Regions from separate parts of the Homo sapiens genome. Here region 2 is linked to region 1. Evidence: fine-mapped expression QTL. A gene starts in region 1. The other region holds a variant in brackets. All regions are shown on one strand. Distances are from middle to middle.

The links. PIP is the estimated chance that this variant, and not a neighbour inherited with it, causes the effect.
Region 2: its variant is fine-mapped to the expression of ZNF460 in whole blood (INTERVAL, PIP 0.91).

Annotation. Positions count from the first base shown.
Region 1 is chr19:57,277,162-57,282,538 of GRCh38, forward strand. It overlaps ZNF460 (zinc finger protein 460), which reads left to right and starts at 3,324. Exons shown (of 3, transcript NM_006635.4): 1 at 3,324-3,675. The coding sequence starts at 3,646. It overlaps ZNF460-AS1 (ZNF460 antisense RNA 1), which reads right to left and starts at 3,173. Exons shown (of 3, transcript NR_136529.1): 1 at 3,118-3,173. RefSeq lists enhancers at 2,520-3,459, 2,574-3,165, 2,583-3,782, 3,166-3,757, 4,686-4,805 and a silencer at 4,180-4,229.
Region 2 is chr19:57,302,569-57,307,945 of GRCh38, forward strand. No RefSeq gene overlaps it. Among named protein-coding and RNA genes, the nearest start is that of ZNF543, 15 kb to the right of the region's middle. RefSeq lists an enhancer at 71-570. The variant G/A (reference allele first, on the strand shown) is at 2,702.

The DNA of each region.
Region 1 (5,377 bases):
CATCTTTAATCCAACCTCTGACTTGGAGTTTCAACATGTGGTCTCTGGGCAAGATGGTCGCCCTGAGTAATAGAGTAATAGAAAAGATAAGAAAGGGGCCGGGCGCAGTGGCTCACGCCTGTAATCCCAGCACTTCAGGAGGCCGAGGCGGGCAGATCACAAGGTCAGGAGATCGAGACCATCCTGGCTAAGATGGTGAAACCCCGTCTCTACTAAAAATACAAAAAATTAGCCGGGCATGGTTGCAAGCGCCTGTAGTCCCAGCTACTCGGGAGGCTGAGGCAGGAGAATGGCCTGAACCCGGGAGGTGGAGCTTGCAGTGAGCAGAGATAGCGCCACTGCACTCCAGCCTGGGCGACAGAGCGAGACTCCGTCTCAAAAAAAAAAAAAAAATTATATATGGAAATGCTTTCGCAGGCAATACTTTCCCAGGAAATATTTTCCACAAGCAATACTTTCCCAGGGAAGGCAAAATGATCAGGGAGGCCAGAGAAAGACCCACCCATTGCAGTGACACTGAAAAGTTCAGGCGGCTACGGCTGCTGTCGTGAAGGGATTTTTTTCCAGCAGTCCCGTCAGCTCTCAAGTTTCCCCTTTTGGGGGAGGAAAAAGCTCCCCATGTCCCACGATCCTGTACACGCCTAACCCTGTCGCCCGGAGCCATCAGCAAAGAGTGCAAGGCAGATTAATCCAAAGACAATAGCAGTTAACATCCCACGGTGCCAAACCTCTTCTTAGCCAAGAGGGACTTTACTGAGAGGGGTCTCTAACCCCCTAAATCTTAGAAGGGACTCTAATCCTCCTAAGTTGGGCCTCTAACCCAAGGTCAGTCAAGCGTCCTTGCCTTTTATTAAGAGGGGCCTCTAATCCACTCTGCCTTAGGAGAGACTCTAACTCCCCTAACTTGAGCGTCTATCCCAATCCCATTCTTTACCTGGGTACCCCACCACTTACCCAAAGTCATCCAATCAGTGCTGCAGTCTATTTCCTTTGAGTCAGGGGGGTCTCCTCAGCATTGTCCCTTTTGTGGTTTGCGAGAAAAGTGTTACCCGACCCCACCACTTACCCAAAGTTAGCCTTTGGGTCACGGGTTCCTGCAGTATAGTCTCTTCTGTAGTGGCCAGGAATGTGTTACAGGAAAGGGGTCCCAATCCATATCCCAAGAGAGGGTTCTTGGATCTCGCACAAGAAATAATTCAGGGCGAGTCCACAGTGCAAGTGAAAGCAAGTTTATTAAGAAAGTAAAGGAATAAAGAATGGCTACTCCATAGACAGAGCAGCCCCAAGGGTTGCTGGGTGCCCATGTTTATGGTTATTTCTTAGTGACTTGCTAAACAAGGGGTGGATTGTTCATGCCTCCCCTTTTCAGACCACATAGGGTAACTCCCTGACATTGCCATGGCATTTGTAAACTGTCGTGGCACTGATGGGAGTGTAGCAGTGAGGAAGACCAGAGGTCACTCTTGTCACCATTTTGGTTTTGGTGGTTTTGGCCAGCTCCTTTACTGCAACCTGTTTTATCAGCAAGGTCTTTATGATCCGTATTTTGTGCTGACCTCCTATCTCATCCTGTGACTCAGAATGCCTTAACTGTCTGGGAATGCAGCCTAGTAGGTTTTAGCTTCATTTTACCCAGCTCCTATTTAAGATAGAGTTGCTCTGGTTCATATGCCTCTGAAAAAACCATTTAAATTTAATTATAAGAGTCTGGCCAGAGGGGGTGGCTCACGTCTGTAATCCTAGCACTTTGGGAGGCCGAGGTGGGTGGATCACCTGAGGTCGGGAGTTTGAGACCAGCCTGAACAACATGGAAGAACCCTGTCTCTACTAAAAATATAAAATTAGCCAGGCGTGGTGGCGCACACCTGTAATCCCAGCTACTCAGGAGGCTGAGGCAGGAGAATCGCTTGAACCCGGGAGGCGGAGGTTGCAGTGAGTGGAGACTGTGCCACTGCTCTCCAGCCTGGGCAACAAGAGTGAAACTCCATCTCAAAAAAAAAAAAAAAAAAAAAAAATTTAAGAGTCACAAATATGTGAAAAAGAGAATGATGTCTTTATCAATTTTCAAAAATTACTATTGCCAGTGATGAATAACAGTGTTCCTTGCACACTAATTTAGCCAAAAATATTTCTCCAAAAGTACCGCATCGTGTAGGAAATTGACTCCATCTCCATTCCTTGACTATTTTCAATCTCAAAATTAAATCTCTTGGAGAGTACTTTCTGCACACCTTTCTATTTCCTTAACCATATATATCGTCAAACCATTGAAAGCTGGACTTTATTCTCTCACTTTCATAGTCATGAAAAGAAAAAAAAAAAGTTACTGATGGGGACTCCTAAGACTTCGCATAATATAATCTTTGCATAGTCTAGGATTGTTAAAATTCCTAACAAGACTTTATAAACTCTCCTGTCTGCAACCAGTTAATGCTGGGTTGGGCCAGGGTTCCCCTCTTTCCCGTCACTTATCCATCTACGCTCATTCTTTTCATAGCCTCACCCAATATCATGACTTGAAGTAACAGTTTACAGTAATAACTCCCAAATTTATATATCCACGCTCGAACCCTCTGCCAATGTTGAATCATAGGTTGAGTATATGGCACTACGCTTTGTGGTCTTACTGACGTTTCAAACTGATCATGCTTGAAATGGGAGTACTGGGCTTCCCGGCAAGCCTGCTCCACTAGCAGCCTCCCCACCTCAGGGTACGGGAAGTCCACACGTGGCGAACGCGAAGCCTATTACATCACCCGGAAGTCCCTGCATCCTACGAAGGCTGGGCCCGGCCAAAGGAGGCCCAATAGAGGGCGGTCTGTCCTTTCCCAGCAGGCTGGGCACACTGTCAGGCGTCCTCCTTTGGGTGGCTATTTTAACTGCTCATTTATCCTTTTCTTCTATGAAAAGATCCAGAAAAGAGGCAAAGCAAGCGAGAAGTCGCGGGCCCAGCCCACAGCAGGGTAAGCACCTTTGTTCGGGGTCTGAATCGGGGCGAATATCCCCGCCTCCTGACCTCGATTTTCCTGAGCTAGAAGGGACCTTTCGACCCTCCGACTTGTGCCTATACTAAGGCGGTGGCCCTAAGACGACGCGGGGGTTCTGGTGCGCACTTACGTGCAGTCGGATGCGCTGGGTGAGTTCCCACACCCGGTAGATGTAAGGGAAAAACTGCATTACCCAGAAGGCACTGCCCCTTGCGTCGGCCGCGGACTCTGGGCCATTGACGACCCAGGACAGGAGAGTTTTCTGCGGGCCAGGGCGGCGGAGGCGGGACTTCCGCTTCTTCGTGTGACGTCATCTCCGTGGGCCGGTTTGGCCCTGAAACAGTGTGGGGCCTAGAGCGCTGGGTGGGCGCGTTCTGCGGCCTGAGCAGGGACGGGTAGTGAAGCGGTTACGCCCCTTCTTCGCGTCTTGGCGGGAGCCTGACGCCCCGCTTCTCCCCTAACGAGGTGTCCCACCGGCGCCCGCCGAGGCCTAGGCCTCCGCAGCCGCCCTCCGTCTCCTCAGCCCCGACGCTGCGCCTTGGGCCTTGTGCGCATTTTTTTCGGGGGAAAACTGAGGCTCGGAGTGCGAAAGTCAGCCGAGGTCGCCCCGCCCAGGACAGAGAAGGGCTGTGGTCGGCTGATCCGCGGCATTCCCGGGATGGCGGCGGCGTGGATGGCTCCGGCGCAGGTGAGTGGACGAGGTTTCGGCCTTGCTGCTGCTGTGCTATTTCTAGAGGCCTCGTGGGCAGGCTGGAAGCCAAGACAGCCACAGGATTTTTCTTTGTCGCCATCGTTTATTTAAGAGAAATGGCCGTGGCTTGTCATTTCCTTTATCCGCAGTCCTGCAACAGTGTTGGCCTCTGATAGGTGTTCAGTCCGTGGTTGAAGGAGTGATGCTTCCTTCTAGGGATCTCATCACACTTCCCCTAAATCCAACCTTCTCTGTTGCCTGCCAGCCCGTACCCCATCCACCTGGCCAACCACCCCTGACCTTGTCTGTTTGCATTTTTCCCTGGTCCTTTGCTCTTCAGAGCCACCAACCTGACCGTGCAGTCCTCTTCCATTTTCCAGGCTTTCTCCTTGCACTTCCTTTTACTTCGAACACTGCCCCTGTAACTTTGCAGGGCCTCCCTTTCACATCCTTTTGGCATCTGTCCAGGTGTCACCTATTTGGAGGTGCCTTTTTTGGCAATTCCGGCTAAAGTGGCACCTTACACCCTTGCCCAGAGTCTGGTATTTTTGTGTAGATAATCTGATGGTATTAAAGAAGCTTGTGGATTTGAGTTTGTCAAGGATGTAATGGGAACAAAGAAAAATAATTGCAAAGAATGATATTAACTGTCATTGAGTCCTTGCTGTGGGCTGATCGGTGAGTATTATTTAACCCTCAGTTCGTTTAACCCTGAAATTTTTTTTTTTTTTTTTTTTTTTTTTTGAGACGGAGTCTTGTTCTGTCGCCCAGGCTGGAGTGCAGTGGCGTGACCTCGGCTCACTGCAACCTCCGCCTTTTGGGTTCAAGCGATTCTCCTGCCTCAGCCTCCTGAGTAGCTGGGACTACAGGTGTGCGCCACCACGCCTGGCTAATTTTTGTATTTTTAGTAGAGACGGGGTTTTACCGTGTTGGCCACGCTGGTCTTGAACTCCTGACCTCAGGTGATCCACCCATCTGGGTCTCCCAAAGTGCTGGGATTACTCTTTAGAATTAGGTTCTGTTGTCATCATTGTTTTACACAAGAGCAATTTGAGGGTCACATACGTCCAATTACCTGCCTTACATCACTGTAGCTCTTAAGTTTCTTAAGTCAGAAACTAACAACTGGTGTGTCTAACATCATAGCCTGTGTTTTTACCCTCTTCTTTACCCGCAGTGGTTAGGGAGGCCTGGGGGTGAGACCTAAAGTAACCTTTGCAAGATGAGGCCTCCTTCTAGCCAGTGATCTTGGGCATGAGGAGTCATGGCCTTTCATACTGGTGGAACTGTGTAGACTTAAAAAATGGTATATTGGTTGTTTAAGGAGTTCTCAGGGGACCTGTGTGGCTTCCACGGTGGTTTTATATGTGGTTCCCCTTACTCCCTTACCTGCTGACATATTCTGAGAGGGCACGTTTGTATGGTTATGTTGCTGAATGTACCCTCCTACTCAGCCAGGATAGATGTAATCTCCAGATGGGCCCATATTGTCTTGGCTACAACCTGCTGTGCCCTCTATGACTCTTGTTGCTTGCTCATGGAATCTTCTGGCCTCAGGGATGCCTGCTAGTAGGACTTAGGTAGAAAAGGAAGCGATGGCTCATTGTGAATTCTCCCTGGAAGCAGGTCCAGGCCCTAACACCTGATCAGGTGTCACCACGTCAGGTGATTCTTTGGTGAGGTGGATGATGATGACTAC
Region 2 (5,377 bases), 25 kb after region 1:
CTGCTCTCGATGGCCAAAGTACTGTTTTCCCAGGAGACAAGGTACTGCTTCAGCTCAGGTACAGAGGGGTGTGACTGCTCTGGATGGTTAATGCACTGTTTTCCCAGGATGCCTGGCATTGCTTCAGCTCTGGCCTAGAGGGGCAGGATGTAGCAGCATCTGGGAGGGGTAGGTGGAGGAGCTTCGCCAAGGCATCCTTTCCTCAGGAGGCAATGTGCAGCTTCAGCTCAGGTCCCTGGAAGCAGGGCAGTTTTGGGAGAAGTAGACTGAGAGGTAGACAGTGAGAGGTGGATGTTGCACATCTGCCAGAGCATTGTTTTCCCAGGAGGGAGTGCACAGCTTCAGCTCTAGTCGAAGGTGACAGGACACAGCCTAGCATAGGGACTTGAGGGGTAGGTGGTGCAGCTCTCCCACTGCATGGCCCTACATGGGAAGGTGGAAAAGCTGCTTGTAGATGTTGGGCCACCAGGTGGGGGTGGATGGTGATGGCTTATCCTCAGGGATGAAGAGGTGCCATGGAACCAGACAGAACTCCAGCCGTTCCAAAATAACAGCACAGTAGCTGTATGGGCCACTGGGGGCAGGACAGTGTCAGCTCCTTCCTCAGGAGCACAGCTGTATGGACTCCAGGCGGGTCCGTCAGCTAAGCTTAGTGCCTGTGAGGGCTGTAGGGGACCCCAGTGGTGAGTACTGTAGGTGTCCAAGGTGGTGATGTACGCTGCTGGTATGCTATTGCTCACTTTTTCCACATACGGAGAAATTCCTTCTGGTTTTCAGCTGATCTTGGCTGGGGGATGGGGTTGTGGAGACCAGGTGTTCCATTCTCTGCTTGGCTATCCTGAGTTTCTGTGCTCACCAGAGTTTTTGTTATTACTTTGACATATTCTGGTGCTTTCCTTTAGTTATTTGCATTAAAATGTATTTGCTTATTTATTTTGGCTCTGTGGGGGTGGGGAGAACAGCATTTACGGACTGCTAATCTGCCTTCTTGCTGAAGTCACTCTCTTGCTACAGATATTTGGTTGGAAACATTTTCGTTTGTATTCTGTAAATAACTAGGAGTAGAATTGCTGTGTCATATGATATGTGTATATTTACCTGTATAGGAAACTGCCAAGTTGTTTTCCAAAATGGCTGTACCATTTTGATTTCTCACCAGTATTTTGTGGGAGCTCCAGTCCTACATCTTTTTGAGCACTTGGTTTTGTTACACTTTAAGTTTTTCAATTTAACAGATGTGTAGAGGTGTCTCATTGTGGATTTAAATTTCATTGCTGAAATGACTACTGGTATTGAGCATTTTTTCATATGTTCATTGTTCATATATCTTTAGTTATCTTTCCAAATCTTTTTTTTTTTTTTCTTGAGACGGAGTTTCGTTCTTGTTGCCCAGGCTGGAGTGCAATGGTGAGATCTCAGCTCACCACAACCTCCGTCTCCCAGGTTCAAGCAGTTCTCCTGCCTCAGCCTCCCAAGTAGCTGGGATTACAGGCCCCCACCACAACGCCCAGCTAATTTTTTTATTTTTTGTAGAGATGGGGTTTCACCATGTTGGCCAGGCTGGTCTTGAACTCCTGACCTCAGGTGATCCGCCCACCTCAGCCTCCCAAAGTGCTGGGATTACAGGCGTGAGCCACTGCACCAGACCCTATCTGTCCAAATCTTTTGTCCCACTTTAAATTGTTTTTTCTTCTTAACATTGAATTTTAAGAATTCATTGTATCTTTTAATATTCTGAATGCTAGTTATTTGTCAGATACATGTTTTGCAAACCATTTATCTGTATTTGGTTTCTTTTTGTTATCTTAGCAGTGTATCCTGAAGAATAGTTTTAAATTTTGATGTAATCCAAAATATTTCGGTTGTTTGTGTTCTTTGTTATCCTATTTTTGTTGTTGTTGTTTTATAGATATGGGGGTCTCACTACGTTGCCCAGGCTGGTCTTGATCTCCTGAACTCAAGTGATCCTCCCACCTCAGCCTCCCATCCTTGTCTACCTAATTAGGCTTTGTGTAACTCAGTGTTGCAAAGCTTTGACATCTGTTTGAGTTAATGTTTATATATGTTGTTACTTAAGGGTTTCACATTAAATTTAAACATACTTATATTTTATAACCAAACAAGTCATGTTGGGGCATACTCATTAGGATTGAGTGCTTTCTTACACCAAAATACATGTATACAAAGATTTAAAACACTTTCGGCCGGGCGCGGTAATCCCAGCACTTTGGGAGGCCGAGGCGGGTGGATCACAAGGCTAGGAGATCAAGACCATCTGGCTAACACGGTGAAACCCTGTCGCTACTAAAAAAATACAAAAAATTAGCCAGACGTGGTGGCAGGCGCCTGTAGTCCCAGCTACTCGGGAGGCTGAGACAGGAGAATGGCATGAACCCGGGAGGCAGAGCTTGCAGTGAGCCGAGATCACCCCACTGCACTCCAGCCTGGGCGACAGAGTGAAGGCTATGTCTCAAGAAAAAAAAAAAAAAACTTTTATAATAACAACTGTAAATAGTTCAATTGACAGTCATTTGTAAGATGTTTAAGTAAACTGTGAAACAGTAAGTAAATGGATGAAAACACACTGATTAAAACTGCTGCTTTTATCCAACAAGATGGATGAATTTCCCAGGAAAGAATACTTGAGTTCAGGCCTGTTCAAGTCCCAACCTGTTTGTGGTTTGAGGTTGCTCTCTGCCTC[G/A]TAGAGCAAAGTGGAAAATTTATCTTCTGGGAGGACAGAGTTTTCTTCTCTGAAAAAGTTTCCTACATAGTTGGCTTTGGCATTTGCAAGGAATGAAAGGTCAGGGATTGAGGCCTCATGAGTCTGGATTTCTAGCTGAGGTTGAGAGAAAAGGTAGTGATTGTAACCAGAAAATCCAGAGTGGGTGTATTTACCTCCAGAACTCATCACTTAAAAAAAAATTTTTTTTGAACTGACATGCTTGAGGCTTTTTCTTTTTTTTTTTTTTGAGATGGGGTCTTGCTCTATCCCCCAGGCTGGAGTGCAGTTGTGCAGTCATAGCTCACTGTAGCCTTATCCTCCTGGCCTAAGCAGTCCTCCTGCCTCAACCTCCCTAGTAGCTGAGACCACAGGCGCATGCCACCTGTGAGTTTCTAGAGATGAGGTCTCCCTATGTTCCCCAGCCTGGTCTTGAACTCCTGGGCTCAAGTGATCCTCCTGCCTCAGCCTTCCAAAGTGTTGGATTACAGGCGTGAGCCACTGTGCCTGGCCAGAGCTCATCACTGTTAACTCAGCCTGGGTTTTTCACAGCAGTCATGGAAATAGATTCATTAATAATAGTAACAAATATATAGTCTCCCTCTCAAAGAAACCTTGAGTGGCAGTGGCATACCAGATACACAGTAGGAAATACTGTAGAATTATGTTGTTAAGTTCATAACCAAACATCATACATGATGATAAAAGACAAGATAATGGTCACATTTATGCAGTATTAACTGAGAGGGCAAATTTGTGCCTGAGAAGCTATTGGGAATGTTCTCTCTCTTTGCATTACTAGGAATTACATGGGAAACACATGTAGACAGTCTTCAGGCTATTAAGATTTGTCCACTTAATCTTTACTTATACATGAATAAAAAATGGGAAAACATGATAAATATAATAAACTAATACACTCAACCCTGCCCCTTGATTATATAATAGAACAAAATCAGCATGCCCGGCATGAGCCTGCCAGATTGCCAATTCCATCCTCCACCTTCAGAGGATGCCGCCATCCAGAATTTTGCCTTACTCATTTTACTTTCTTCATAGTTCGACACCTTAAATGTATATTACTAATAGTAGCTTTGCATTTTTGGCTGATTTAAAAATTGATATAAATGAAATAATGCTGTAGAGATGCTTTTTGGTATTAAGTGGATATACTGTTATTCTTAAAGATGTTTGAAATGAATATACCTTTCTAAATATCTTTTTAAAATAATACATTAAATGATACTGCTTTAGAATTCATGAACTGCATCTCATGAGAATATGTAGAGATGACGTGGGCAGGTAAAGTAAAACTTCAGGTTGAATATCCTATGATAATTTAAAAATGACAAAATAGTGTGGTGAATAATAGAGCTTGAGCACTTTAAGGCACCGTAGGGACCCCTTCAATGTAATGATGACAGTGCTGAGGTGCAGAGAAGTTAGGTAATCAGCCCAAGCCACTACTCTAAGGACAGACCCTATCTACTTTTCCTAATTTGTCAGAAGACTGCCTATGATACTACTAATAAAAAGTCCTATGAAATTGGTATTGTCATTATTTTACAAATAAAATAATCTTCAATTTTTGTTTCCTCTATGCATGGGTTACTTAGTATTTTGTAATTTGAATTTCAAGCATAATTAAAAAGAAATCAGGTATCTAGGCTGGGCATGATGGCTCAAGCCTGTAATCTCAACATTTTGGGAGGCTGAGGCAAGAGGATCACTTGAGGCCAGGAGTTTGAGGTATCTTTTGTTGATCTCTACACTGATTGTATTCTCTCTTTTATTCTATGAAAGTTAAAGATTTTTTCTGATACTACATATTGTCAGTTTTTTAAATACTCAGTTTGTGCTAAAAGAAAACATTCGGCAACTGATATCTGCTGTTCTGTATGTATCTGTCAGTCCAGATTTGTCCATTATGGTGTATGAATCTAATAGAACCTCACCAATGTTATACCTGCCTTCTTGAAATCATTACTGAGATAGCTAATATTAAAATATCCTGGTTTGTCTGTATATTTAATTCTTTACTCTCATTATACTAAATTTTTTTAATGTAATTTGAATTGATGGTAAAAATTGTATACAGGCCGGGTGCAGTGGCTCACTCCTATAATCCCAGCATTTTGGAAGTCCTATGCAGGAGGATTGCCAGAGGCCAGGAATTTGAGATCAGCCTGGGCAACATAGTGAAACTCTCATCTTTATAAAAAGTAATATTAAAATTTTTAAAAGTGTATAAACTGTAAAGTATATTTTACTGGTGTTTTCTTCCTTATTCCTACTTGTCAGATGCAAATACACATTTTTGTGTGTTTGTGTTTAGTAATTATAAGTATACATATTTCATTCTTCTATTTCATATATTTCTATGACATTATATCTTAGATGTGTAATTTATGAACTACTACTGGATTATTTTAATCCATTAGAAATTACTATTCACGCATTCTGTATTCAATTCATGTGATAGCTAATATATTTGGTTTTAAATGCATCTTATTTTGTGGTTTTCTTCTAGGCTGTTTTTTGTGCTTTCTTTTAAAAATATATAGGTTTTAATAATCTTAATTTTCTTTTAGTTTGAAATGTATATACTCATTTTATTCATTAGTCTAAGATAAGAATTGTAACACTTCTCTAACCTAT